4 linked regions of the Homo sapiens genome follow. The protein of the gene in region 1 purifies or fractionates together with the protein of each later gene. This does not show direct contact. Each region holds a gene or a part of one and is shown in the gene's direction. Other genes may lie near its edges. The genes, in order: NPDC1, H1-6, PTER and ATP11A.

What was found.
Region 2: the proteins of NPDC1 (region 1) and H1-6 purify together in Homo sapiens (affinity purification with mass spectrometry; 3 studies listed by BioGRID and IntAct, with this or other methods). This does not show direct contact.
Region 3: the proteins of NPDC1 (region 1) and PTER purify together in Homo sapiens (affinity purification with mass spectrometry; 3 studies listed by BioGRID and IntAct, with this or other methods). This does not show direct contact.
Region 4: the proteins of NPDC1 (region 1) and ATP11A purify together in Homo sapiens (affinity purification with mass spectrometry; 3 studies listed by BioGRID and IntAct, with this or other methods). This does not show direct contact.

The regions. Positions count from the first base shown.
Region 1 is NC_000009.12:137,043,159-137,049,993, reverse strand, and holds the start of NPDC1 (neural proliferation differentiation and control protein 1 precursor), read left to right. Parts: upstream 1-3,816; 5' UTR 3,817-4,004; coding exon 4,005-4,116; intron 4,117-6,835. Other genes in the region: ENTPD2 (ectonucleoside triphosphate diphosphohydrolase 2), read left to right, coding at 5-124, 919-1,053, 1,134-1,337. UniProt on the Homo sapiens protein: Suppresses oncogenic transformation in neural and non-neural cells and down-regulates neural cell proliferation. Might be involved in transcriptional regulation.
Region 2 is NC_000006.12:26,106,888-26,113,007, reverse strand, and holds H1-6 (histone H1t), read left to right. Parts: upstream 1-4,872; 5' UTR 4,873-4,914; coding exon 4,915-5,538; 3' UTR 5,539-5,596; downstream 5,597-6,120.
Region 3 is NC_000010.11:16,482,005-16,489,032, forward strand, and holds part of PTER (N-acetyltaurine hydrolase), read left to right. Parts: intron 1-1,133; exon of another isoform or gene 1,134-1,930; coding exon of another isoform or gene 1,931-1,945; intron 1,946-2,332; coding exon of another isoform or gene 2,333-2,380; coding exon 2,381-2,812; intron 2,813-4,347; coding exon 4,348-4,613; intron 4,614-7,028. UniProt on the Homo sapiens protein: N-acetyltaurine hydrolase that regulates feeding by catalyzing the hydrolysis of N-acetyltaurine into taurine and acetate. N-acetyltaurine has anorexigenic and anti-obesity effects that are dependent on GFRAL receptor and GDF15.
Region 4 is NC_000013.11:112,686,143-112,693,055, forward strand, and holds the start of ATP11A (phospholipid-transporting ATPase IH), read left to right. Parts: upstream 1-3,895; 5' UTR 3,896-4,274; coding exon 4,275-4,313; intron 4,314-6,913. UniProt on the Homo sapiens protein: Catalytic component of a P4-ATPase flippase complex which catalyzes the hydrolysis of ATP coupled to the transport of aminophospholipids, phosphatidylserines (PS) and phosphatidylethanolamines (PE), from the outer to the inner leaflet of the plasma membrane.

The DNA.
Region 1 (6,835 bases):
ACAGGCCTTCTCTGCCTTCTTCTACACTGTGGACTTTTTGCGGACTTCGATGGGGCTGCCCGTGGCCACCCTGCAGCAGCTGGAGGCAGCCGCAGTGAATGTCTGCAACCAGACCTGGGCTCAGGTGAGCCCCGCTCCCACTCCTTCAGGGCTGTGCGGAAGGGCTCAGCCTCCGCCTCCGCATGCCTCCCCAGCCCTGCATGGACAGGCCTCTCGGAGCACCCGCTGCAGTGGGGGCGATGGCAGGCATTAGGCTGACTCCAGAGGTGGCGTGGCTGTGGCCGGTAGGCTGTGAACAAGTCGGGCGGGTTGGAGAAGCTTCGCCAGGCCCGACCCTCATCCCAGATCTGGAGGGCAGGGGGAGGCCGGTGCCCAGGTTTCTGGCTTCTGCCACTGGTTCCCTCCATGGTACCACACAAGGGAAGATGGAAGTGGGTCTGGGCACCGGGAGTGTGCCCACCGGAGACTCCAAGAGAAACGTACGAGTCGTCCCAGGACCGGGGTGGTGAGCGAGGCCCCATTTTGTCCTCCCAGGGCCTAGTCTCAGACAGACTGGGGTGAGGGAGGTGGGGACAGGCGGCGAGCCAGCGGGCAGACTCAGGCCTGGAGCTCGTCCTGTTCCCCTGGCCACACACCAAGGTGTTGCTGCCTCCTGCTCCCTGGTGGCCATGCCTGCTGTCCCTCCTCACTGGCCTTCCAGGCATGGGCGCTGGCTGGGGAGGGATGGAAGCGTGCCCTGCCGGGGGTGCCCCTCGGACTCGGTCTTGCCATTCGTGTCCGGGCCTGTGTGGTGGTCTCTGGCCTCGCACGGCCCGTGTGTGTCTGGGGAGGGGTGAAGCACGCCGCCGGCCCCCTCTCCCCGTGGGGCCGAGACCTCCTGGTGGTCGCCTGCCTGACGGTGTCCCGCCCGCGTCCCAGCTGCAAGCTCGGGTGCCAGGGCAACGGGCCCGCCTGGCCGACTACTGCGCCGGGGCCATGTTCGTGCAGCAGCTGCTGAGTCGCGGCTACGGCTTCGACGAGCGCGCCTTCGGCGGCGTGATCTTCCAGAAGAAGGTGGGCTGGGGCGGGGCGGGGCGGGGCCGACCTTGCGGGGCGGGGCCTCTCGGGAGCTGAGGCCACGCCCTTCCCCGCAGGCCGCGGACACTGCAGTGGGCTGGGCGCTCGGCTACATGCTGAACCTGACCAACCTGATCCCCGCCGACCCGCCGGGGCTGCGCAAGGGCACAGACTTCAGCTCCTGGGTCGTCCTCCTGCTGCTCTTCGCCTCCGCGCTCCTGGCTGCGCTTGTCCTGCTGCTGCGTCAGGTGCACTCCGCCAAGCTGCCAAGCACCATTTAGGGGCCGACGGGGGCAGCTGCCCCATCCCTCCCCCAACCCCTGTATCCCCACCCCGTACTCCCACCCCTCCCACAACCCCTGTACCTCCCACCCCTGTATCCCCACCCCTCCACCCACCCCTCTCCCAACCTCTCTCCCCGCCCCTGTATCCTGCATTCCTCCACCCACCCTCTATCCCCCACCGCTCCACCCCACCACTGTCTTCTCCATCCTTCCACCCCACCCTCAGCGTCTCTGCCCCTAAGGCAGCCCAGGAAATAGGAACTGAGACTCTGGTACCCACAGGAGCCTGGGTGGGCAAAGAGCGCTCAATCCAGCTCCTTGAACCCCTCCAGCCCGCTTCAGCCTGGGCATCACTGCAGGCCCCGTGCTCCTCCTCCTCCTCCTCAGGGCTGGGTCTCCAGAGAGTGGGGCCTTGGTCCTGAGAATCAGCCCTTAGAGGCTCCTTCTGTGTAGTCTGGGTCTGTACTGGGGAGGGTCACAGCCCACGGGCTGGCAGCCAGCCCAGCACCTACTTGTAAAAATTTTGTAATAAAAAGTTTTTCCTAGAGACGTGAAAGGAGAGTGTCTGTGGGGTGGGGCATCCTTGCTGTGGCCTGTGCCCCCACCTTCCCGCTGTTCTAGCCGCACGGGCCTGCCCTTGGTCCTGAGGGTGGACACCATCCCTCCCTACTGCCTTCTGCTCTGGAGCCAGGCCTGGGGCACTGGCTGCTGCCCTGGTGTGCCGTGGCAGCCTAGAGTAGCTGCAGGATGGCTGGCCCGAGGGAATGTTCCTGGGCCCTTGAGTCTTCTCTGGCCAGCAGAGTTCCCCAAAACCATCACATCCAGATCTGCGTTGGTGACCAAGGCCAGACTGAAGGTTGGGTCCTGGTACAGTGAGCCTGGGGGTGAGGGTAGAGGTCAGGGAGGTGGCGGAGAGTGGGTGGCAGCCAGCCAGGCGGCTTCCTAGGGGGCAGTCAGTGCTGGTAGAGACTGGCGGGAGGGCAGGCCCACATCAGGAGGTGGCACAGGGGTGGGAGATGAGATCAGGACCAGGACCCATAGGCAGGAATCTTGCACAGAACCTGGCTGTGGAGCTGAGCCATGCAATGGCACAGGGCACCTTGCCCTTCTCACCTGGGACTGAGTGTCCTGCACCTCCAAAAGGCATCCTGCAGCCCCAGCCAGGCCCTGCAGCCCCTCCCCAAGCCAGTTTTCTCCAGGATGGGAAGGCCTGGTCTTGCCCACTCGCCTCCTCACCTTCCTGGGAAGTGAGCTTAGACACTGTCTCTATGCTCAGTGCCCTGGCGAGGAGGGTGGTGGTTCTTATTCTGCTCTTCCCTCCCCTCTTCACCATTTTTTTTTAAAGTCATTTGATAAACCTGAGGGCAGCCAGCCCCAGCTTTGGAGTTCTGAGACTGGAAGGACCAAGGGGACACCCCGGGTTGGAGGTCTCACTCTTGTTCTCTGAATGACTAGTCAAAGGAGGTTTCTAGTGGGATGGGGTGGGCGTGCTCTTGGGAGGCAACAGGTGAGGTGCAAGGGGGGCATCAGAGATGCCCGTTGTCAGCTGGGCACAGTGGCTCACGCCTGTAATCCCAGCACTTTGGGAGGCTGAGGCTGGCGTATCACCTGAGGTCAGGAGTTCAAGACCAGCTGAGGCAACATGGTGAAACCCCGTCTGTACTAAGAATACAAAAATTAGCCCAGCATGGTGGCACGCGCCTGTAATCCCAGCTACTCAGGAGGCAGAGGCACGAGAATCACTTGAACCCGAGAGGTGGAGGTTGCAGTGGGCCGAAATGGCACCACTGCACTCCAGGCTAGGCGACAGAGACGCTGTCTCAAAGAAAAAAAAAAAAAAAGATGCCCATTGTCCTGAGGGAGCTAAAGGGCTGTCACCTGGGGACCCTGAACACCTTGGACAGCTCCCAGCTCCGGTCCTCAGTGGCTCCGGATCACTCTTGCCCCCTGGTGGCCTCACTGAGCGCGGCCGCCGCGGCTCCAGCCAAAGCTGCAGTCGGGGCCGGGGCCGTTCTGTGTTCCTGTATTTGCTTTTCCCGCGAGTGGGGGTGCCCCTGCCTCTGTGGGCACACCTGTGCCTTCCTGTGCACCTGCCCAGCTCGTGAGCACCTGTCTGCGTGCGCCCGGCGCTCCTGTGTCTCTGTGCGCTCGCGAGGCTAGGCCCACACAGGTCCTCTGCCCCATCGCGGGTGCGGGTGAGGGGCTCGGAGTCCTACCGGGAAGAGGCCAGAAGGGAGCGCATCCTGGAGAAGCCCACCCGCGGCCCAAACCCAGCCGGACTTCTGGGAACCGCACCGGCCCCAGAGACCGCAGGTGCCGAGACACCCTGAGGCCGAGAGAGGTCCAGCGAGGCCCGGAGAGGGGACCAGAACTGGAGCAGGGGGAGGGGGCGCAGTCTGGAGCCGCCCTCCCGCCCCCTCAGGTGGAGCGCGCAGGCGCAGTCTCCGCGTGCGCGCCTCGCCGGCGCCTCCATCCCGGATCCTTGCTGCAGCGTCAGCGCCGCCGCCCGTGCCTTTCCTCTTCCTCCTCCTCCTCCTTGGCATCCGCCTCTTCTTCCTCCTGCGTCCTCCCCCGCTGCCTCCGCTGCTCCCGACGCGGAGCCCGGAGCCCGCGCCGAGCCCCTGGCCTCGCGGTGCCATGCTGCCCCGGCGGCGGCGCTGAAGGATGGCGACGCCGCTGCCTCCGCCCTCCCCGCGGCACCTGCGGCTGCTGCGGCTGCTGCTCTCCGGCCTCGTCCTCGGCGCCGCCCTGCGTGGAGCCGCCGCCGGCCACCCGGGTGAGCGAGCGCGCTGGGCGCAGGCCGCGGGGCGCCCCGGGGCCGGGATCGCCGGGCGGGGACCGGGTTGCCGGGCGCCGCCGCCCTCGTCCTGCCCAGGCCCGCAGGCCCTGCAGGCCTGGTCCGCTGGTGGCGGGGGCCCCGCCTCGCCCACGATGGAATAAACAGGCCTGGCCGGAGGGCGCAGCGCGGAGCCTCCAAAAGGCCGCGCCGGATGGGGCTTCTGCCGGTTCCCAGAGGCGTACCTTACATTCATGGCTTCTTCCGCCGGGAGCGCGTCTGGCTCAGGCCTCCGCGCCGCGGCCATCTGGCTCTGGGCGGGCCCGCCGGGAGTCTGCCTGTGTGCGTCTCTGTGTCTCCGTGTTCGGGGCTCCTGCGGGTGTGGGGCTGGCCCTGAGTGCCCGCCGGCTTCGCTGCCGGTGCGCGTCCCGGGGTCGGGGCCTCAGTGCTGCTCTGCCTGTCCTCACGCCTTGGGTGGCGCTGGGCACCGGCCTTGTGCGCCATGGTGGGCGCTGAAGTTCTGGGGGCACTTATGGCGCAGGCTCGGGGTGCTGTTCTAGCTTCAATAGGAGGGAGACTGTTGCAGCCTCAGAGCCTCCGCCTGCATCCCCTGCCCTCGAGGGCACTGGCATTCTGTCTTTGGGACTGAGGGCTGCAGGTGGACTCCGGAGGAGGGTGATAAGCCCAGGGTCCTGGGACACCCTCTCACCTGCACAGATGGGTCCTGAGGGTCCAGAGAGCAGAGCTCCCTGCAGGAACCCAGGATGCAAAGCTGACGTTTTTCTGGGGGGACTGAACTGGGAGACTTTGCGACTGCATTCGTACAGTACTCCTGGCAGCCCTGCAGAAGAGGTGCTGTGAGCCCGTTTTACAGGCAAGGAATCCGAGGCATGGAGAAGTTAAGTGGATTGTGGCACAGCTGAGGCGCTGTCCTGGGCAGCCTGGTTCTGTGTGTGTGGCCTCAAGGGGCCAGAGTGAGGCCGGCTTCCTCCTGGGCTCAGTGCCCCTGGATGGGAGGTGGGCATGAACAGGAGAGGCTTCCGAGAATCAGAGTGTGCTCAGCCAGGAAAGGCGGAGGCCACCTATTCAGGAAACGGGGCTGCAGCTGCTGTGCTGAGCCCGGGTGGGTGGCAGGTGCCAGTCCTCAGTTCACCGGCCTCTGCAGCTTCGTGTCTGCCTCACCGGGAGACCTGGCAGGGCCCTCCCTAGGCAACTCCTCCCATTCCCAGTGCCCAGTGCTTGGAAGGGAGGGCCCTCAGGCAGCCCAGACGTTGGCGGGTGGAGGGGGGTGTGCCAGCCACCGTCCAGCTGCTCTTGTTCCTGCGACCTCTTTTCAGGAGGAGGAAGTGGGGGATGGAGGCTCCTGGGCTGGGGAAAAGGGCTAGGAGGGGCCTGGAACCCAGACCCTAGAGCCAGCTTTGTACCTCAGGCCCCTGCCTTTGGCGTGGTGGACGGTGGGGTATCAGCACAGGAGCGGGGACTGCCTCACTCCCCAGGTGCCAAGTTGGCGGGTGGGCCCAGGTGGACCTGCTGGCACAGGTTTAATGTTTAACGTGCCCAAGTCCCGGCCCACTGATACTGGAGGCTGCTGCCCCAGGTTGTGGAGGGTGTGCGGTGCCTGGCGTTGGCTCCTGTGCCCACCTGCCACTGCGGCTGCTGGAACTGCCTTGAAGGAAGGCGGACAGCCTGAGGGCCCTGAGTGTCAGGTTACCAAGGAAACCAAACCAGCCAACCAAGGTCTGGAGAAGGATGATGCCCCGTGTGGCCCCCGTGGCCCTGCCTGCAGTGTGCAGTGTGGGGCTGGGCAGAGAGGAAGAGTCCTGGTTAGCCAGAGGTGCCACCGCAGACTCCCCAGGCAGGGTTGATGGCCCTGCTGGGGTTCCCCTGGCTCCACTGGCTTGCTGTGACTGGGGACATTCCTTAGCTTTGAGGCAACTCAGCTATATCCCAGAGGGGAAACTGAGGCAGAGGGCCATTGCCCCCTCGCCCCGTTCTCCAGCACCAGGATAAGACTGATTAGCCACATGTGTCAGCTGGCACCGTGGCCTGGGCCCCTCATCAGCGAGATGAAAGTGTGGTTAGGAACTAGGGAACTAGGGCCTGGCCTGCCATCCCCAGCACTGCCAACCTCGGCCTCCTGAGGCCCTCGGGTGCCACCTGGCCCCTGACTGCAGCCCCTGGTGTGGTGGCTTTGGGAGTGACCTGCCTGGGTTCTGTGTCTGAGGCCAGTGAGGTCAGCAGACTCCATCTTAGGTGTCCTCGGTGCCTGGGGGACAAGCCAGAGGCTGGAGGAGCAGCATCCCTTCCAGGCTGCACACTTGTCAGTGCCGGGTTCTGGGGAGAGCCGCACGGGAAGGAGAGGTCGCTGGCGGCATCGTTTGCTGCTCCCCAGAGACAGACCTGGGCCCTTCCCTCTGGGACTCCCAATCTGGACGGGGTTCCTGGCTTGCTGTGGGGCATGTTGAGGCCGGAGGCTGGGCTTGTGGGGCTGCACGGCCCTGCCCAGGAGAACTCAGCACTGCCTGGACGGCGAGACTCAGCTTCTGAGCTGAGGGCTCTATCAGGCCTGGAAGTGGACCCTGGGGAGGGGTGGGGCAGGGTAGTTCTGATAAGTCCTAGGACTGTTCGCTTCCGGGTTCTGAGCCCTGGCGTCAGGGAGGAAGGGCATGTCCAGAACAATGGCCAGAACCAGGCCCGGCCAGCTCGGGGGGTGACGGGG
Region 2 (6,120 bases), on another chromosome or scaffold:
GAAGTCGACATGCTCATGGAGAGGTGCTACCCACTAAACTAATATTTGTATATCAATTATGGATACATTGGGCCACATTTACAGAAATTCACTTACAGTGGGTTACCAGAAGGGATTTTTTTTCTTGATTGGCAAGAAGGCTAGGCTGTTTTGTTGGGGGCTGGCAGGAGCTGTCTAGGCTGCCCAAGTATGCAGGTCTCTTCTATCATCCTGTGTTAACCATCTTCCATGTATCTTTCAACCTCATGGTCATCTGCAGCATGTCTAGGGGTCATATCTATGTTCCATGCAGGAAAAAAGGGTAAAGGGAAAGGGAAGTAGGCATGTACCATTTTAATGCACACCTTGGTTTTCAGAAAATTTAAGAAGAAAGACTTTCTGCTTTTCTCTGACTATTCTGTATTCTGGATTACAACGCAACAGAAACGTCACCTTAAATTCTAATGTTTTTCTCTCCTTGCTTTCAAAAACTGACTCATTAACCTCCACGTGGCTTGGAAAAATTATTTCAGTCATCCAGTAATGAGCTGTTCATAGAAATGTTTTGGACATCAAGTCTGTGTTGTTAGCATTATACATGTTAAGCATTGAATAAAAAACAACATGATGTGGGTAAATTTCTTTACTTACATATAAGTACTTATATACTTATAGCTGAAAAGAGAGGTTGAAATGTCAGGTGGAACAGAAATAAGATTACCTAGATGTTTCTCCTATGGGTGATTTTCAGCTATGCTGATCTTTCTTCTGGGTCAGGTACTCCCAGAACTTCCTAATTAAATGGTGGCCCTGATCTTAGTTCCTCTCTCCTCTTAGACATTTTCCAGGACTACAGAAGATGTGCAGTTTATAAATGAGTAGCAGAAACCTACTGAACAAATTATTCAGGCTCATCTGAACAGAGAGGACACCTTCTCTGCTATACTCTCTCAGTGATTTCCCTGCCTTGGGGTCAATTATTGTCTTGGACATTGATTTAAGCACATAATAATTGTTGTCATTGCTTATGTTTGGATTTCATCTCCCAAAATAGATGGTAAATTCTTTAGTTTAGAGACCAAGTAATACTTAAAAAAAAATTTTGTGTGTGTGTGTGTGTTTTTTCTGTGTCTCTCAGCCCTGTAATAGCATCGTACTTACACTTGTTAGATTTTTAGAGACAACTTTTACAAAACATGGAATTATCTACATACCCTTTCTACAAAACAGACAAATTAAATACTCAGTAGTTGAACCAAAAAAAGCAGTTCAAATAAAATACTTGAAAATGAAGAAATCATTTGAACAGAGTTAAAGTTAATCGTAAAATAATGTCTGTAAAAATTATTGCCAATCAAATATAAAGTTCAAAAATAGTGCTTGAAAAAGGAAGAATCATATGAAAAGGGACTACTCATTTTAAAAATGTTAGATATCAGGAAAAGCCAAGAAGTGAGTATGGTAAGAGTGCTGTCAAGTGAAACCCTGCTAATCTCACTGAACATGTAAAAATCTGTAGATGCCTTTATTTTATTCACTCACACACATATGTAGAAAGAGAAATATATGGTAAACATTAAAAAAACCAAATTAGAATGTAAAATTAATACTTTAAAAAATGGGCTGTATACTTTTCTTATCACCGGAGATAAGAATTTATTATTTTTAAAATAAAGTTATTTTCTCTGTGACTGTTTCCATGACTTTGCTACTTAGAAGTTAGAGATGCCAAAGTTTATCTAAGAAAATGTTTATGGAAATATTATTTCAATAATGAATGTTTAGAAGACTGAATTTCCTGACTGGGCGCAGTGGCTCATGCCTGTAATCCCAGCACTTTGAGAGGCTGAAGAAGGAGGATCGCTTGAGTCCGGGAGTTCAAGAGCATCCTGGGCAACACAGCGAGACCCTGCAGCAAAGTAAAAAGAAAAAAGAATTGAAAAAGGAAGACTGAATTTCCTTTGGGCAAGTCATGTGACATTCCTGTGCCTCAGTTTCTTCATCTATAAAGTTAATTCCTACATTTTTGGGGAAGGGAGAGAAAAACTTAGGATAGTGACTGGCACAGAAGAAGCACTATATACTATATATATGTGGATATCATTTGTTTTTATGGTACCATTTTAGCTATCTAATGCAAAATATGAATCTTTTTTTTCTGGGTCTTAAATTATGGAATGTAAGAATTTTCTAAATTCTCTAATTCTGTGTTAGTTTTAAAGCAATGGAGTAACGTATCTGTCAACTTGTAAATATAAGGATCAACCTGATCCACAATTTGACCCCTAGCCACTAATATTTAATAGTACAACACTCAGAAATTATCAAAGGTCAGAGAAGCCAAACAAATGTAAAAACATACAGGTGCTCAGAAAGATGCACCTGTAATCTCTCTAAGGAGAAATATTTTCCAAACTGAGTGACACGGTGCTTTAGTGAGTTGTGGAATCAATCTCATGATTTCCAACCTAGTGTTCTTTTAAAAATGAACTAGTCCACAGTAGAATATACTAAAGTGCTGGTGCTTAAGATAGTATTGTTTTCTGGAAAAAAAAAAAAAATTTTTTTTTTTTGAGACAGGGTCTCGCTCTTGCCCAGGCTGAAGTGCAGTGGCACAATCATGCTCACTGCAGCCTTGACCTCCTGGGCCCAAGTGATTCTCCCACCTCAGCCTTTTGAGTAACTGGGACCACAGGTACGTGCCACCACACCCGGGTAATTTTTTAATTGTAGAGACAGGGTCTTGCTATGTGCTTAGGCTGGCCTTGTGAACTCCTGGGCTCTAGTGATCCACTAGCCTCAGCCTCCCAAATTTATGGGATTATAGGCATGAGCCACCCTACCTGGCCTGTTCCCTGAATTTTTTTTTCTTTCAGGTGTTTGTGCATATGTGTGTGTGTATGGGTATAACAGAGAGACAGAGAGAAAGAAACTTTTCTATCTCACTTTGCAATCAGAAGTTTGAAGTCTTATCTTTTGGCTTTTGTTTCAGAAATATTTCAAATGTAGACTCTCTCCTTTACCACACTGTCCCCTTAGGCAAGGTCTTTGCCATTCTTCTGAGACTATTGCAACAGACTCCCAACTTCTGACTGTGGGCCCTTCTCAAAAATGATTGTTTATGCAATAAATCTAAACCCAAGACAACTACAACAATACAACAAATTCTCTGCTTAAAAACTTCCAATGTCTGCCGGGCGCGGCGGCTCACGCATGTATTCCCAGCACTTTGGAGGCAGAGGCGGGCAGATCACTTGAGGTGGGGAGTTCGAGACTAGCCTGGCCAACATGATGAAACCCCATCTCTACTAAAAATACAAAAAATTAGCCAGGCATGGTGGTGGGCGCCTATAATCCCAGCTAATTGGGAGGCTGAGGCAGGAGAATTGCCTGAACCTGGGAGGTGGAGGTTGCACTGAGCCAAGATCACACCATTGCACTCCAGCCTGGGCAACAAGAGCAAAACTCTGTCTCAAACCAAACCAAAACAAAACTTCTAATATCTACCAAATGTTTCACACAAGTATTTGGGGATCTTCACAAATGGCCCTTATGGAGTTTTCCTTTGCTGAGACCCTATGCTCTGGCCACACTAAACTCATTCAGCATCCCAGAAAGGCCTCAGCCTTTGTGAGCAAGCTCTTATCTCCAGGCCTCTCACAAAGACCTGTTCCAGTAGAAGCTCAGGGGAGCACACTGGACATTATTCCAACAACCCTTTCCCCACAGCTATGCAGCCAAATCTGCCAGCTCAGTTAATTAATTAAGCAATTCAGAGATGAGGGTCTGCCCAGGCTGGAGTGCAGTAGCTGCGACCTCAAGCTCCTGGGCTCTAAGTGATCCTCTTCAGTCTACCCAGAAGCTGGGACTGCAGGCATGTGCCACCACACCCAGCTAATTTTTTTTTTTTTCAGTAGGGACCAGGCCAACCTAGTCTTGAACTCCTGGCCTCCAGCCTTCCGAAGTGCTGTAATTACAGGCATGAATCACTGCGCCCAGCCAACCCGCCCAGTCTTGTTAGACATGGGGTCTGTAGTTTCTAGTAGGTTCTTGAGTCTAGGGTTCCTACCTCATGTTTTATAGTTAATTTAGGGGAGGGACTGTGTCTGTTTATCTGGGGATGTAGGGGTGGGCAGGGGGATAGAGGGGACTTCAATTAATGAAACCAGAAGCAAAACTCAGTTGAGGACACCGGTCATGAGAGTGGCCTGATTATGGCCAATCTTACATAATGTGTGAGATCTTGATATTACCCCATCCTTGAGAGTCCTCTATAAAGCTACAGGGACTTGGGAGCACCTTTAATTACAGACAACCCATGTTCCTGTGGATTATGATTTATTAGATTGCACATGCCTAAATAAAGACATCCTCTGCAGTCTTTTGACAATTCTATAAGCATCTTCTGACTCCGCAATTAGACAGCTAAGAGATCTGTGTTACTTCCCTCACATATATAAATAATTTTAAATAAAAATCATGGCGTGAATAATTTCTTTCCTCTACCGATTTGAAGCTATCCATTTGGAAGACCACTCTGAAGAGATGAAATAAGTCTTCTGCCAAAGATTACTTATTAATTTACAAGGAAAAGGGGAAGTTTTGTTCCTCTCCGTGAATTTGATTGAAAATCGAGGGCTTTCTCGAATAGTTTTGGCATCCAGGGTCATTTTTCATTAAAAAGAGAAAAGTCATGTCAAATATGAATTTCCGCAGATTATTCAGCACTAGACCCTGGGAGATTCTGTAAAGAGGGGTTTTGTTATACTCAACTTTTCCGGGTAAAACAAACACAAATACTCCTCCTCCAAGGGGCGGGGGCGGTGCCTAGGTGATGCACCAATCACAGCGCGCCCTACCCTATATAAGGCCCCGAGGCCGCCCGGGTGTTTCATGCTTTTCGCTGGTTATTACATCTTGCGTTTCTCTGTTGTTATGTCTGAAACCGTGCCTGCAGCTTCTGCCAGTGCTGGTGTAGCCGCTATGGAGAAACTTCCAACCAAGAAGCGAGGGAGGAAGCCGGCTGGCTTGATAAGTGCAAGTCGCAAAGTGCCGAACCTCTCTGTGTCCAAGTTGATCACCGAGGCCCTTTCAGTGTCACAGGAACGAGTAGGTATGTCTTTGGTTGCGCTCAAGAAGGCATTGGCCGCTGCTGGCTACGACGTAGAGAAGAATAACAGCCGCATCAAACTGTCCCTCAAGAGCTTAGTGAACAAGGGAATCCTGGTGCAAACCAGGGGTACTGGTGCTTCCGGTTCCTTTAAGCTTAGTAAGAAGGTGATTCCTAAATCTACCAGAAGCAAGGCTAAAAAGTCAGTTTCTGCCAAGACCAAGAAGCTGGTTTTATCCAGGGACTCCAAGTCACCAAAGACTGCTAAAACCAATAAGAGAGCCAAGAAGCCGAGAGCGACAACTCCTAAAACTGTTAGGAGCGGGAGAAAGGCTAAAGGAGCCAAGGGTAAGCAACAGCAGAAGAGCCCAGTGAAGGCAAGGGCTTCGAAGTCAAAATTGACCCAACATCATGAAGTTAATGTTAGAAAGGCCACATCTAAGAAGTAAAGAGCTTTCCGGGAGGCCAATTTGGAAAGAACCCAAAGGCTCTTTTAAGAGCCACCCACATTATTTTAAGATGGCGTAACACTGGAAACAAGTTTCTGTGACAGTTATCTATAGGTTTAAGTTGTGATGCAGCTGAGTTGAAAAGGCTTGAGATTGGAGAATTAATTCAGGCCAGGCTTCAAGACCATCCTGGGCAACATAGCCAGACTACCATCTATACCAGGGGTCCTCATTTCCCCGGCCACCGACCGGTAACCGGTCCCTGTCCATGGCACGTTATGAATTGAGCCGCACAGCTGAGGGGTGAGCGAACATTAACCAACTGAGCTCCACCGCCTGTCAGGTTAGCTGCAGCATTAGATAGATTCTCATAAGCTCAAACTGTATTGTGAATGGCACATGCAAGGGATCTAGGTTTCAGGCTCCTTGTGACAATCTAATGCCTGATGATCTGAGGTTGGAGCAGTTTTAGTCCGGAAATCATTGCTCCCAGCCCCTGCACCCCCTGGTCCGTGGTATAATTGTCTTACACAAAACGGTCTCTTGTGTCAAAAAGGTTGGAGACTACTGGTTTTACAAAAA
Region 3 (7,028 bases), on another chromosome or scaffold:
AGTGCCTGGCAGCTGTGTGGTGATTCTCTGAAGAGACACTGCCTGCTTTTCTCTTAGCCACCATTTGAATTGCCTAGCTGATAGAAGTTTGGCTTCCAGAAAGGCACTATCAAACAAAATCAATGGCCATGTTAGCCACAAGTCCTAAGTTCTGTCCAAAAGTCTAAATCCATCATTTATGCCTTATAAGCCAATATATCGCAAACACCTGAGTTCCAGATAATTGCAGTGGCTTGCTATAAATTGGCCTACAATTCTGTCACCCTCTGACCTCTGATGTTGTTTTCACCTTGTCTTACGTGTGTACTATACCCTTCACAAATTTTCCCCTTTGTTCCCCCAAATCATCTCCCCTCTCATCAGCCACTTTCTCTGAAAAGAAATAATCTAGGATATACGTGAATAGTTCCTAGAATTCGCAAAACAAAGCTACTATTTGTTGAATATGGTCTGCGTGCCAAATGCATCTACAGGTATTTTTACCTGTGGTATCTAATTTATTTTTACGACAGTCTATGAAATGTGCTTCGTTATTTTAATTTACAGATGACAAAAATGGAAGTCAAAGAAGGCTTTCAAGGGATATGGGGGAAATGATGACTTCAGAACACTATTTGAAGGAACAGTTTGAGAGCTTGGAAACACGTGATGCTCCTTTTCTTCAGTTCCCAGAGTCTGGGACTCGAGTCCTGATTTTGCTCTTGGCCATGCAGGAGTTTGTCCTCACTATTTTCAGTAGCTCTTGTTCCTTTATAAACCCTTCATTTAGGAAATGTACTTAAAATTTTTTTTTTTGAGACATAATCTCGCTCTGTTTCCCAGGCTGGAGTGCAGTGGCGCGATCTCGGCTCACTGCAACCTCCGCCTCCTGGGTTCAAGCAATTCTTCTGCCTCAGCCTCCCAAGTAGCTAGGATTACAGGCACGCTCCACCACACTTGGCAAATTTTTGTATTTTTAGTAGAGACGGGTTTTCACCATGTTGGCCAGGCTGGTCTCAAACTCCTGGCCTTATGTGATCTTCCCACCTCAGCCTCCCAAAAGTGCTGGGATTATAGGCATGAGCCACTGCACCTGGCCATTTAATTTTTAATTTAAACAAATTTTTTAAAAGGAAATGTACTTTTAAAGGAAAGTACTGGAATTGGAGTTCTTGGTATCACTGATAGACATTGGTGAACACTTAATTTGTGCTACAAATGAAAGCAAATCGAGGATAGAGAGGGCTTTGCTCTTTTTAGAGATAGCCGATTTCAGTTTCAATAAATCACAATCGCTTTCATTATGGCTAAGAATCTTTGCTTTTCAGTATTTTTGAAGTGTGTTTCTGTGTGCCCTAGACAATCAAGCATTCAACCTGAAGAGGTTCGTTTCTTGTTGTTATTTCATTATTCAACCGAGTGTGCTCCTCAGTTGTTTTGGGGAGGGGCATATTCTATGAAGTCGTGTGAGTCAGAGATCTTGTCTTTTGTTTCTTTATGGCTCTAATTTCTGACACATCATGGACCTTCAACAGAAATTTGTTTGCTTGGGTAGTGGAGGAACAGTAGAAAGATCAGTTGTGGCCACGAGTGATGGTTCACACCTGTAATCCAGGCACTTTGGGAGGCCGAGGCAGGCAGATCACCTGAGGTCAGGAGTTCAAGACCAGCCTGGCCAACATAGGGAAACCCCATCTCCTAAAAATGCAAAAATTAGCCAGGCTTGGTGACACATGCGTGTAGTCCCAGCTACTCAGGAGGCTGGGGCAGGAAAATCCCTTGAACCCAGGAGGCGGAGGCGGAAGTTGCAGTGAGCTGAGATCGTACCACTGCACTCTAACCTGGGCAACAGAGCAAGACTCTCCCTCAAAAAGAAAAAAAAGGAGGAAAGATCAGTTGCTTCAGGATATTTAATTTAGCTAAAAAGTGACAAATGAAACAGTACTGATACATGGTTAGTTTGGATGTAAGTTATTGATTCTGAATACTTTTTTTTAATTACAATTACTGTTGATTTATCCAAGAATGCATAGCTATGATTAAGAGATACAATTAAGTTAAAGAAAAGTGAACTGAATATCAAAGAATATTTCCAGTAGATAAGGTTAGGACTAACTCAGGCAGAGGACTCCCAGTAGAAGGGGTGGGAGGCAATTAACACCACGCACGTCACTTAGATCTGCAGTGGGGATAGATTCTGAAGTCGGCAGGATTGTGAGATCGTATCTCTAGTTTTATTGATTTGCCTTCTTACATGGGTATATGTTCACAGCCTCCCACCCCTTACGGACAAGAGTTTATGTGTGTGTTAAATATTCTGATTGTAGTTGTTTGTTTGTTTGTTTGTTTTTAGAAAAAAGAAATCCTCTTTTTAGAACATCTCTTGGTGGTACCATCAGAAATGTCTTCCTTAAGTGGAAAAGTCCAAACCGTTTTGGGCCTTGTAGAGCCAAGCAAACTGGGCCGTACCCTGACCCATGAACACCTGGCCATGACCTTTGACTGCTGTTACTGTCCACCTCCCCCGTGCCAGGAAGCTATTTCCAAAGAACCTATCGTGATGAAAAATTTATATTGGATTCAGAAAAACGCCTATTCCCATAAAGAAAACCTTCAATTAAATCAGGAGACAGAAGCCATAAAGGAAGAACTGTTGTATTTTAAAGCTAATGGTGGAGGGGCTTTGGTGGAAAACACAACCACTGGGATTAGCCGAGACACACAGACGTTGAAGAGGCTTGCAGAAGAGACTGGCGTCCATATCATATCTGGAGCCGGGTTTTATGTGGATGCAACTCACTCCTCAGAGACCAGGGCCATGTCAGTGGAGCAGGTAAAAAGCCTAAGTTCTTTGACAGTATTTGTTCATAAATTCAGAACAGCCAGAACCTTGGAAATGCCCTGGGTTCAGAGGTAGCTGGGCATGCTACGGAAATTTGCTAGCTAGCAAAGACATCTGCCAGTTGGGGCCCCAGTTAGTAACACTGTATTTCATAAAGAAAGTGCCAATTTTGCAAGCAAGCCTTGTGGTAAAGAAAAAAGAAAATAATAATAATAAGTGTCAAGGAAAGAGATCTTAGTGCACTGGTCATTGCAAAATCCAACGTGATAATAGTTAGATTTGTGTGTATCGTATCTGTCCTCAGTATTGGCACCACAGTCTATTTGTAAACCTCACTTTTCCATCTTAAGTTATGCTACCTCGATTTTTTTTCACCCTGGATTTTATAATAACCAGCAATGAAGATTCACTGTAGGGTGAAACTTGGCAGTCAAAGACTTGGCACATTTGTGAATATGTTTCAGTTTCCTTTCACAAAACAGGAGAGGTGGAAGAAAATTCATTCCCCTGTGTTTTGTCATAATATGGTCTTAAGAATGGGCAGAAGGAAGTAAATTGTTTAGGGACAAAAAGAATAAGGTGCAAAACCTTTTTTGCACGTGTATGTGTTCTCTTTCTAAACACACATGTATCTATTTATACATGTTTACACATATATGTATATATTCGTATGTATCTTCCATTGCCTGCATGACAGGCATAGGGTGTCAGCTCATTCTTTGCAAAAGATCACTTACTCTCTGGAGTATTTTGTATTTCAAAATTTTTTCTGCATTATTTTCCAACCAGGACTTTATTTTTTTAATGTATTTTTGTTGTTTAAAGACTATGCTGATGATGAGGATTATATATTCTTCCAACCACTTTTAGTGGTAACTATACATATGAACCCAAAAGTCTAATAGTAGTATAGTGTGCTGTGAATTTTCTATGCTGTCTATGATAAAAGACTGGAATAAATAGGAGAGAATTAAAGCATTTCTTGATGCCTTGTGCGGTGATGCAAGCGTGTAGTCCTAGCTACATGGGAGCCTGAAATGGGAGGTTCACTTGATCTCAGGAGTTCCAAGTCCAGCCTGAGTAACATGGTGAGACCTCTGCTTCTTTAAAAAAAACAAAGAAGAAAGAAAAAGAATGACTTGATACACGGGACATAGATTCAATTCATTGGCGGTCTTTCTATATTCTAGATGCTGCTCCCCAGGTTAAGTTACAGATTTTTTTTTGCTTCATCCTGAATGTACTCTCATTAAGTCACTTTGTCCCCCTCCAGCTTCCTAAAGCTATAAATTTCTTGTTAAATAATCATGGTATGATATTATCGAATCTTGGATTTAGTGCAACTTGTTGATTTTTGATTTGGCCAGCAAAATGCCTTTTTCCTTGGCCAATATTAATTGATAAATACTGAATACATTTTTAAAAGAATGAATGACAAAATAAATAAATTCATTCACATACTGTGGTGGATCTATTTTGATAAATTTCACAACCTATAAAATATATTCCTTCTCACTCTTCCTTAGCTTACCGATGTCCTTATGAATGAAATTCTCCATGGAGCTGATGGAACCAGTATCAAGTGTGGCATTATTGGAGAAATTGGTTGCTCCTGGCCTTTGACTGAGAGTGAAAGAAAGGTTCTCCAGGCCACAGCTCATGCCCAGGCTCAGCTTGGTTGTCCTGTTATTATCCATCCTGGACGGAGCTCCAGGGCACCATTTCAGATTATCCGAATATTGCAAGAAGCAGGCGCAGACATCTCCAAAACAGTCATGTCACACCTGGATAGGTAAGTAGGCTGTCTTACAAATGGATGCAAACTGCCATATAATTAATGCATGATCAAATTAAGAATCTACAGTAATCAGTCAATGCAATACTAATCACGCAGAGAAAACCACTAACTATATGGAAGGTAGTATTTATAAAGTTTCACAACTGACATGAATAAAAGTCAATGCTGCCATTTTTGTGTCCCTCCTCTGTGTCAGATAGTGTCCTAGGTATTTCACATAAGATATTTCGCATAAGTCATTTCCTTTAATTTACTCAATCCTTTATAACTCATAACAGGTGTCACTGTCTACTTCATTTCTTTGTCTCATGGGATGCTATCAAAGTAGCTGCCAATTCCACTTGCTCAATGTTTACCAGTAGTTGGAGTAATAAAGTTATCACACATATAAAGGGAGGGAATGTCAATGGTTTCACCCAGAGAAGAAAACCGCAAATATAAATGTTCACATTTGTGTCACTTGTGGTTTGAATCATCTGAATTTTGGAAAATGCAATTATAAAAAATAATAGTAATAAGTATAGCATGTGTTGGGTAGTATCATGCATTAGTTTCCTATTGCTACTGTAACAAGTTATCACAAACTGGGTGCCCCTAAACAACAGAAATTTAGTCTCTCAAAGTTCTGGAGGCCAGAAGTCTGAAATGAAACTTTGTCAGGGCCCCGCTTCCTCCAAAGGCTGCAGGGAGAATCTTTCCTTGCTTCTTCCATAGCCTCAGATCCAGCTGTTCCATGGTTTGTGGCTGCATAACTACAGTTTTTGCCTCTGTCTTCGCATAGCCTTTTCCTCACTGTCTATGTCTTCTCCTCTGTTTGTTACAACCACAGTTGCCATTGGATTTATGGCCCGTCCAGATAATCCAGAATAATCTCATCTCAGATCATTTACTTAATTATATCTGCAGACCTTTTCCCCAAATAATGTCACTTTCAGAGGTTCCAAGAGTTAGAATATGGACCTATCTTGTTGGGGTTCACCATTTAATCCCTACATATTATTTTAGATGCATAGGGGACAGTAAAATGAATGACTAAATGAAGAAATGCCAGCTGCTGTTAATTTTATGAACAAGTCTAACTGTTGCTAAGGCTACTCATTAGCCTTCAGTTGAATTTATTATAGAATTAATACAGCACCAGTGAGACTAATAATATATTATAGTTACTTCTATCTTGCCTATTGGAGTAAAGCCATATTAACATATTGATAAATCCTGATTATCAGACCAGACAGATTGCTATTTCATAAACTAACAGTCCTGCAAAATGTATTGATAAAATGCCTCTCCTTATGAGGCTGCAGTGAACCATGACCACTACACTCCAGCCTAGGCAACAGAGCAAGACCCTGTCTCAAGAAAAAAAAAATTCTTTTACTTAATAAAAAATACTGTGAAATCATGTGCAGGAAATATAAACAAGTTGTAGTTATAGCAGAACAGAGAAGTCAGTATTAATGGGGAAACTGAGGCATAATAGGATAAAGGTAATTCTCCTGGCAACCAGGTTGGTATCAAGATCCATACTTGGCTATCTTGAGGAATCTTCTGGTTGCACTGATAAAGTAGAGGCATGCTTCTATATACTGGTCACAGAGACAATGCATCAGACTGTGAAAACTAGACTCTTTGGACCCAGTGAGAACTTTGAATTCTAACTCTCATTGGTGTAACATCTTGGACAGCTTAATTTGAATTTAAAACAATGTATTTTATAATGTTGCCTTGTATGATATGGGATATATGTAGCACATTTACTGAGTAAGGATGATACTTTTTAAACATTGTGAAGTACCTCATACCTTCAAAAATGTATTACACTAATACTTTTAAATTTTATAAAATGTTTTAGATTCTTAAAAGCGTTGCATTCTGCAGTTATTATACAGTGTAATTGTTCTATATGTCTATTAGAACATAATCATTTATCATGTTCAAGTATTCTGCATTTCTACTAATTTAAATATATATATATATATGGAGAGAGAGAGAGAGAGAGAGAGAGTCTGTCTCTCTGTTGCCCAGGCTGGAGTGCAGTGGCATGATTTTGGCTCACTGCAGCCTCACCCTCCCAAGTTCAAGTGATCCTCCAACCTCAGCCTCCCAAGAAGCTGGGACTACAGGCATGTGCCTCCACACCTGGCTAATTTTTATATTTTTTGTAGAGATAGGTTCTTGCCCTGTTGCCGAGGCTGGTCTCAAACTCCTGAGCTCAAGCAAGTCACTCGTCTTGGCCTCTCAAAGTTCTGGGACTATAGGCATATGCCATTGTACCTGGTCATAAATTTCTTTTAATTGCGTGCTTGGCATTCCTTGGGATTCCTGAATGTAAGGATGTACCTTTCATTGTTTCTGAAAAGCCTCAGCCATTATCTCTTTAAATACTGTTTCACTCACATGTTATTTATC
Region 4 (6,913 bases), on another chromosome or scaffold:
GTCTACAGCAGTTGGCTCTGGCTTTGGGTTTGTCATTTCAGGTCTCGGTGCAACAATTCTTCTGAACTGTCTTTGCAGGAAGACCTCATTTTTTTGCCCCCACTCCCTTATTTCCCCCCAGTTTTTTTCACTTAGGGGCCAATGAATCCAAGATTTCTTTGGAAAGAAAGGTGGAGGGAGGAATGCAGGATAGGTGTTTATGAGTCTGTGTGTAGGTGAGGGTGTGGCCAGGGTGTCACCTGAAGCACCCATTTGCAAACCCACAATTTCAAGTCTTGGGGTTGGCCTCCTAGCTGTTGCCTCCTCCTCATTCATCCCATCCCTCCAGCACTGTGAAGCAGCTGTGCTCGCAGTGGGTCAGGGGTAGGTCCTGGTTATTTGAGGCGAAGACAATTTCATTCCCCTTGGACACTTACTAGTTTGGTGATGTGCACTGACCTCGGGCCTAAGCCAATCATCTCAGGGACTCTGCTACTTGCGTGACAGACTGGGCAGGAGTGGGCACGTGACTTAGCTGGCACGTCACTGTGAAGTCTCTCCTTCTGCTTAGATGTGAAGGAAGAAACTTGCAGGCCCTGGAGTTCTGGCAGTCGTTTCACTTTTGAATGCACTGGGAGGGGCACCAACACATTACATTATCATTTATTCAGTCTATGGTAGATTATTTCCAAAGATAATCCCCCATAAATTCTCTGTATGATAATCCCTCATAAGGATTAGGAGTTCTCATAATCCCTCATAAGGATCCCTGTCTGTACATGGGATCCTCCCATCAAGGAGTGAAATCTACGTTCTTATCCCTTGAATCTAGGCTGGCCTTGGAATTTATATTCACCAGTAGAACATGGTAGAAGTCATATTCTTGGACTTCCAAACCCGGGCCTTACAGGCTGTATAGCGTCCACATTGACCCTCCTGAGCTGCCATGTAAAAAACTCAGGCTAGACCACTGAATGATGAGAAGCCAGAGAGAGACAGCAAGGCCGGCCTGCCCCCAGTGTTCTATCACCCTAGCTGAGACCCCAGCTGTGTGACTAGACCACAGGAAGCTTCCAGCCCCAGCTGACCCCCAGAAGAATGCAGCTGCAGGACAATCCCAGCCAACAACAGGTGGAGCAGAAGCACCATCGCACCAATTCCGCAGGGTCCTGAGAAATGGTAACCCACTCACTGCCGTTTCAGCTCCTGCACTCGCGGTCACTCGTGACACAGCCAAAAATAACTGACTCACAGGGTGTCTTAGTCTGCTCAGGCTGCTGTAACAAAATCCTTTAGATGGCTATTCATACACACAGAAGTTTGCTTCCCACAGTTCTGAAGGCTGAGAAATCCAAGATCAAGGTCCCAGCAGATCTGGCATCTGAGAAAAGTTCTCTGCTTCATAGAAGGCCTCTTCTAAGCATCTTCATATGGCAGAAAGGGCAAGCAGGCTCCCAAAAACCTCAGTTTTAAAGGGCACTAATCCCATTCCTAACCACCTCCCAAGGCCCCCACCTCTTAATATTTGGGATTAGGTATCAGGTATTTGGGATTAGGTTTCCACGTGTGAATTTGGGAGGACACCTTCAGACCATAGCACAGGGTGAGTTGGACTTTGTTTTTTAATAGCCCTGATTTTTTTTTCTTAGATTTACCGTGAAGATGCTGACATGTGTTAGAAACAGAAAATCCAGCTCATGTGGTTTAAACGGAGACGTCTCTCATAGCAGGAAATTCCAGGTGAGGGCAGCAGGATTTTGGTGAATTGCCTGGTTGTGCCACCAAGGACTCCTGCTCTTCTCATCTTCCCAGGCGGCCACCCCAGGGTGAAGATGCTCTTCCGGCCACCTTCTCTTATAAGTGCAAAGGGCTGCGGAGCACCAGGCATTGCATCCAGACAGGGAATGCAACATTCACCAGGGAAAAAGGAGCATTTCCTCTTTATGTTCCTGTAGGAGTGAGAAAACCTTTGCCAGACAACCCCCAGCAGGCTTCCTGTTGGGACTCATTGACTTGAGCTTGTTTGAAGCCAATTGTTGGAAAGAGAAATGGAGTTACCAAGATTTTCTCAAGAGACAGAGTTTACCCTTAGCCACACAGAGTGGATACCTGAACCAGCAAGGATAGAGAGGGCATGGCTGCTGCATTGTCAACCAACAGTATTCACAACAGAATGAAAAACAATTCACATTTACTACTGAATAAAGCAGACACTCCTGACAGACAGGCAGCCTTGATCTAGTGCCTTATACAACCTCTGATTGCGCCTCGACCCCAATCCCACAGTCACGGTTTACAAGGTAGAAGCTTAGTCAAAATCCGGCTTCAGCAGTCAGGGTTCTTGCAGGAAACTGAAGGTGTTCTTGGGAGGGGATTTGGAAGCGAGTTTGATGAAGGACTCTTTGTTGCGGTGTGGTCATGGTTCAAGGATCCTTCAAAGGGTGCTGCTATTTAGGGACCAGCAACAATGGCAGACCGACAACATGTCTCACCCTAAGAGGCTTGGGGGCGGGGAGAAGTTCTGTTCGTAGAGCCTAGAGGAGTTGTGCAATGGAAAGGGCACCCAGGAAGAATCGTAGCCACAGAGTGAAACCAACACTGGTGGGTGTGGGGCCAGGCCAGGAAGGAGAGGGGAAGAGGCCCCTGCCTCCCTCCTACCCGGTCTGCAGCAGGTTGTCCCTGTGGGTGAAGATCCACTGAGGGGGACCGCCAGCTTCCTGAGCACAGGGCAGGCCAGAGCAGGACAGGCTGGGATGGAAAATGAAGAATCAGTGCTTTAGCCGACAACAAATGGGAGCCGTTTACTGTTTAGTCACTATGATTAGTGTTCACTAGTACTCATTTCTCTTCGTCTAAAAAGTGGCCAACACCATCTCTTTTCCACAAGCACTCGGGAGAACATTCATATTCAATTGCCTTCCTAAGACCCAGACGGGGCAGCGCTCTCCACAGGCCACCAAAAGGTGTTGCCTGTTTGGTTTCATCAGTGATTATCTGTGGCAGCAAGACAGGAAGTTGGAAATCAAGTACCTCAATTAAGTCAAGGCTGACCGTGGAATTAGAGAACAAGTGTTTGTTACCCCGGCCAGGTCACCCTAGGGAAAACAGGCATTCTCCGGGATTGAAATGGTGGTGTTTGTGTGGTAAATAGTTCTCAGTCCAGTTCAAAGCCAGCAGCATTAAGGACACGCCACCGCCACCGGGAGCTGGAGACCAGGCGAAGCTGAGCTCCTCTGTGGTTCACCAACCCCTCAGGCCGCCTAAGTGTCTTCTGCTGTCGCAGCTTTGGGGACAGAGGGGTTTCGGAAACAGGGGCCTCTTGTCTGCACCCTCCCCTCCCACTGACAGGCTGGCAGCCCAGGGCAGCCACCTGAGGAGCGTCCCTGTGTCTCTCCATCTGCAGAGCAGGAAAAGCCTGCGGGTCGGTGGCGCCACGCTGGGGCGAGACCCAGCTTCGGCTCAGGAGATCTCCCACCCAGCCGGACTCCCGCTCTCTGCCCGCGGCCCCCTCCCACACTCCCACCTCGCCCCGCGATCTCACTGCCCCATCGAGGCTTCCGGGCGGAGGAGAAAAGTTTTCCGGCAGGAACCCGGGAAGGAAGCCCTGGGACCCTGGCTGAAACTCCGGGTTTCCCCAGTGCCGAGTCCCTTCCCCGCCGCGCCCAGCGCCTGCGCCCCGGGAGGCGGAAGCAACAGGGGGGTTCCTCCCCGCGGCCTCTGACCTCTGCCCTCTGCCCTCTGCCCCCAGGGTCTGGGGCCCGGGCGGAGGCGCGAGGGGGCAGGGCCGGCGCGCGGGTGCGAGCGCGGGTGTGGGCGCGGGGCCGGCGGGGGCTGCGGCCGCGGGGCGCATGCTCACTTGCGCCGGTGACGTGCGCGCCCGGAGCAGGGGCAGGAGCCAGCGGGGCCCGGAGGCTCCAGAGGGCGGCGGGCAGGGGAGGAGGAGACTCGGGAGGAGCAGAGCGCAGGCTCCGCCGCGGCCGGGGTGCTCCAGCCGAGCCCAACCGAGCGGGCGGACCGACGGGGAGAGAGAAGGCGCCAGAGCGCGCGCGCGCGGCCCCGAGCAGCAGCCTTGCCGCCAGTGGAGCAGCTGCCGACGCGCGGGGCCGCGGACCCAGCATTCGCCGGCCGGGCCGGGCATGAGCGCGGAGGGGCCGCGGCCGCCCCCTGCACCGCCCGGCGCGCCGAGGCCGTGACCGGAGCGGGGGGCGCGGCCGCACTAGTACCCCGGAGCCCATGGGCGCGCCGAGCCGGGCGCGGGGGCGCTGAACGGCGGAGCGGGAGCGGCCGGAGGAGCCATGGACTGCAGCCTCGTGCGGACGCTCGTGCACAGATACGTGAGTGCTCCCGGCGCGGGCTGGGGGACCCGGGGACCAGACAGACGCGGGCCGGCCCCGCAGCCCGGACCCTGTGGCCGGTCCAGCCCCGGGGTCCCGGGAGGTCTCCGATGTCTGGGACTCGGACCGCCCCCGGGGACGAGCGGGATGCTGGGGAGGGGCCTCGGAGTTGACACCCTGGGGCTTCCGACGGGGTCTAGGTGGGCACAGCGCGGGGCCCCAGCCCCGGGCGGCCACCTGCTCCCTGGCCGCGGCCGCCTGGCGCCCCCTTCCCGCCCGCAGCGCCCTGGGGGTCCCTCGGAGAGGCTGGCTGGGGTTCGAGCTGTCCCGGCGGACCGGGCGCCCGGAGGGAGCCAACTTCGACCCCGCCGGGGCCCGGGTCTGGGGAGGAACCTTCAGATGCGGCTTCCGCGCAGCCGTGTCTGTAAGATTAAGGGATTGGGAGGAAGCGTTACACTTCTGCAGAAAAAGGTAGCAATTGTGTTTGTTCTTTAACACCCCTGGGGGATTCAGAAGCGGAGTTTGGAATCTTTTTATTTTTTACCTTAAAGTAACCAATTAGATCAGAAGTCCGGGGTCTTCTTGGGTTCCTCTGGAATTTGCCCCTTCAGTGATAAGCAAGTGAAGAGCTCAGGAGGGAAGACTCGGAAGGGGAAAAGTTGATTTTGTTTTACACCAGAGGAGGGGAAACCGGAATCCCTGGCGTTAGGTGTAAAAAGGGGTGTGTGGCCGGGCGCGGTGGCTCACGCCTGTAATCCCAGCACTTTTGGAGGCCGAGGCGGGCGGATCACGAGGTCAGGAGTTTGAGACCAGCCGGACCGACATGGTGAAACCCCGTCTCTGCTAAAAAATACGAAAATTAGCCGGGCGTGGTGGTAGGCGCCTGGGATCCCAGCTACTCAGGAGGCTGAGGCAGGAGAATCGCTTGAACCCGGGAGGCGGTGGTTGCAATGAGCCGAGATCGAGCCACTGCACTCCAACCTGGGTGACAGAGCGAGACTCTGTATCAAAAAAAAAAAAAAAAAAGGGTGTGTGTGTGTGTGTGTGTGTGTAGGAGAGGAAGAAAACTGTCCCAAGCACAGCGTTTCCTGCCACTGTCTTGCACAAGAGGCTTCATTGTTCCATAGAGGCTGGCGGTCACTGGTCAATCACAGGTTCGAGAAGTCGCATGCACCGGGTTTGATACTAGAGAGGGCAGTATTATGGGAACTTTGTTCTTTCCCGGCATAGGAATTACCTCAGGCAGCCTTTCATATTTATGAGCCTTCTTTAAATAGGAGACCTTGGCCAAAGATAGATAGGTTTCTTTTCAGTGGGGGATGCCAGATCAATGCTTTCCCCCGGATTTATTTATTAACCAAAAACCTCGGAGAGTCAAGGAGACTTGAGTGCACCTTACATCGTTTCCTGATCTCGGGGAAGCCTTAGGAAGGTCAGCCTGACTTACTTAAGTGGAGAGAACTCACCCCTGGTGATTCTGATGATTCCGATGCTAGATCTTGAAAGGCTTGGCTCCAGGAGCCTTGTGTTACTCCCTCACTGGTGCTCGAGCCCCCAGTTCAAATCCTAATGTGAGTGGTAAACCTGTGTTTCACTGTGGTAACGTTATAGAAGACCCAATCACAGTGACTATAGGTAACCTGCAGTGTAAGAGAAATGCTTTATTGGGCGGAAGCTTCTGTTCTCAGTTGTGTCGCTCAGAAGTGTGGGTCCCTAGACACCTTATTTTCCTGCTTTGTTTCCTTCGAGCGAAATGGAAGAGGGAAGGGACTAACACTCACTTTGCCCGCGGTGTTCCCAGTTCATTCCGTTCCCTTCTAACACTCAGTGTTAAAAAGGAGGGTCACGTTGTGGGGCTAATGTGCAGCCTCTTTCCATAGAAATGAGAGATGGATGGGCCAGCCCGGCTCACCCTTTGGAGAATCCCCCCTTCCCAGCCGGTTTCTGACCCCTTCATCTTGGGAGGGGGACAGACAGACGTCCAATTTTGATGCTTGACTCCCTTTCTCCAGGCCTTCAGCTGTTTTCTGTTATATAGATCTATATAAGTGTTTGCGTAGCTTGCATTTTTAATTCCCCTTTGCTGTATTATTACGCTTATGGCATCACATTTTCTTTTAATCTAAGCGGTAAATATTCTTTAGTGAACTTTTCCAGCATATACATTATTGGATAACGTCTCGGGAATACGAGTTGTGGGATAATATTATTTCTGTTTTTCTCATTCCACCTGTGTTTTTTGCAGTGTATTCATCTGGCTACCTCACCCATATTTACACACAGAGCCATTCATCTCTATCATTTTAAGTTCATGTCTATGGTATTAAACTAATTTGACTTTTTCCAGAAACAGTCATGATCTGTTTTCTTGTAATTGCGTTATCGTCCACTATGTAGGACTAAATTATATTTCCTTTTGCTACAGAAAAAAGAGTCTGGGATTGAATACTCATATTTCCTCATGGTTTCCTTATGTGACTTACTTTATTAAAAAGGATAGATAAATAGACCCTGTTCCTTCTTGGTGTTCACATAGTCAGAATTCCTGGGACAAAGAAAGCTTTCCAGCTCCTTCTGATGTGTGAGGGTGGCTAAAAGAT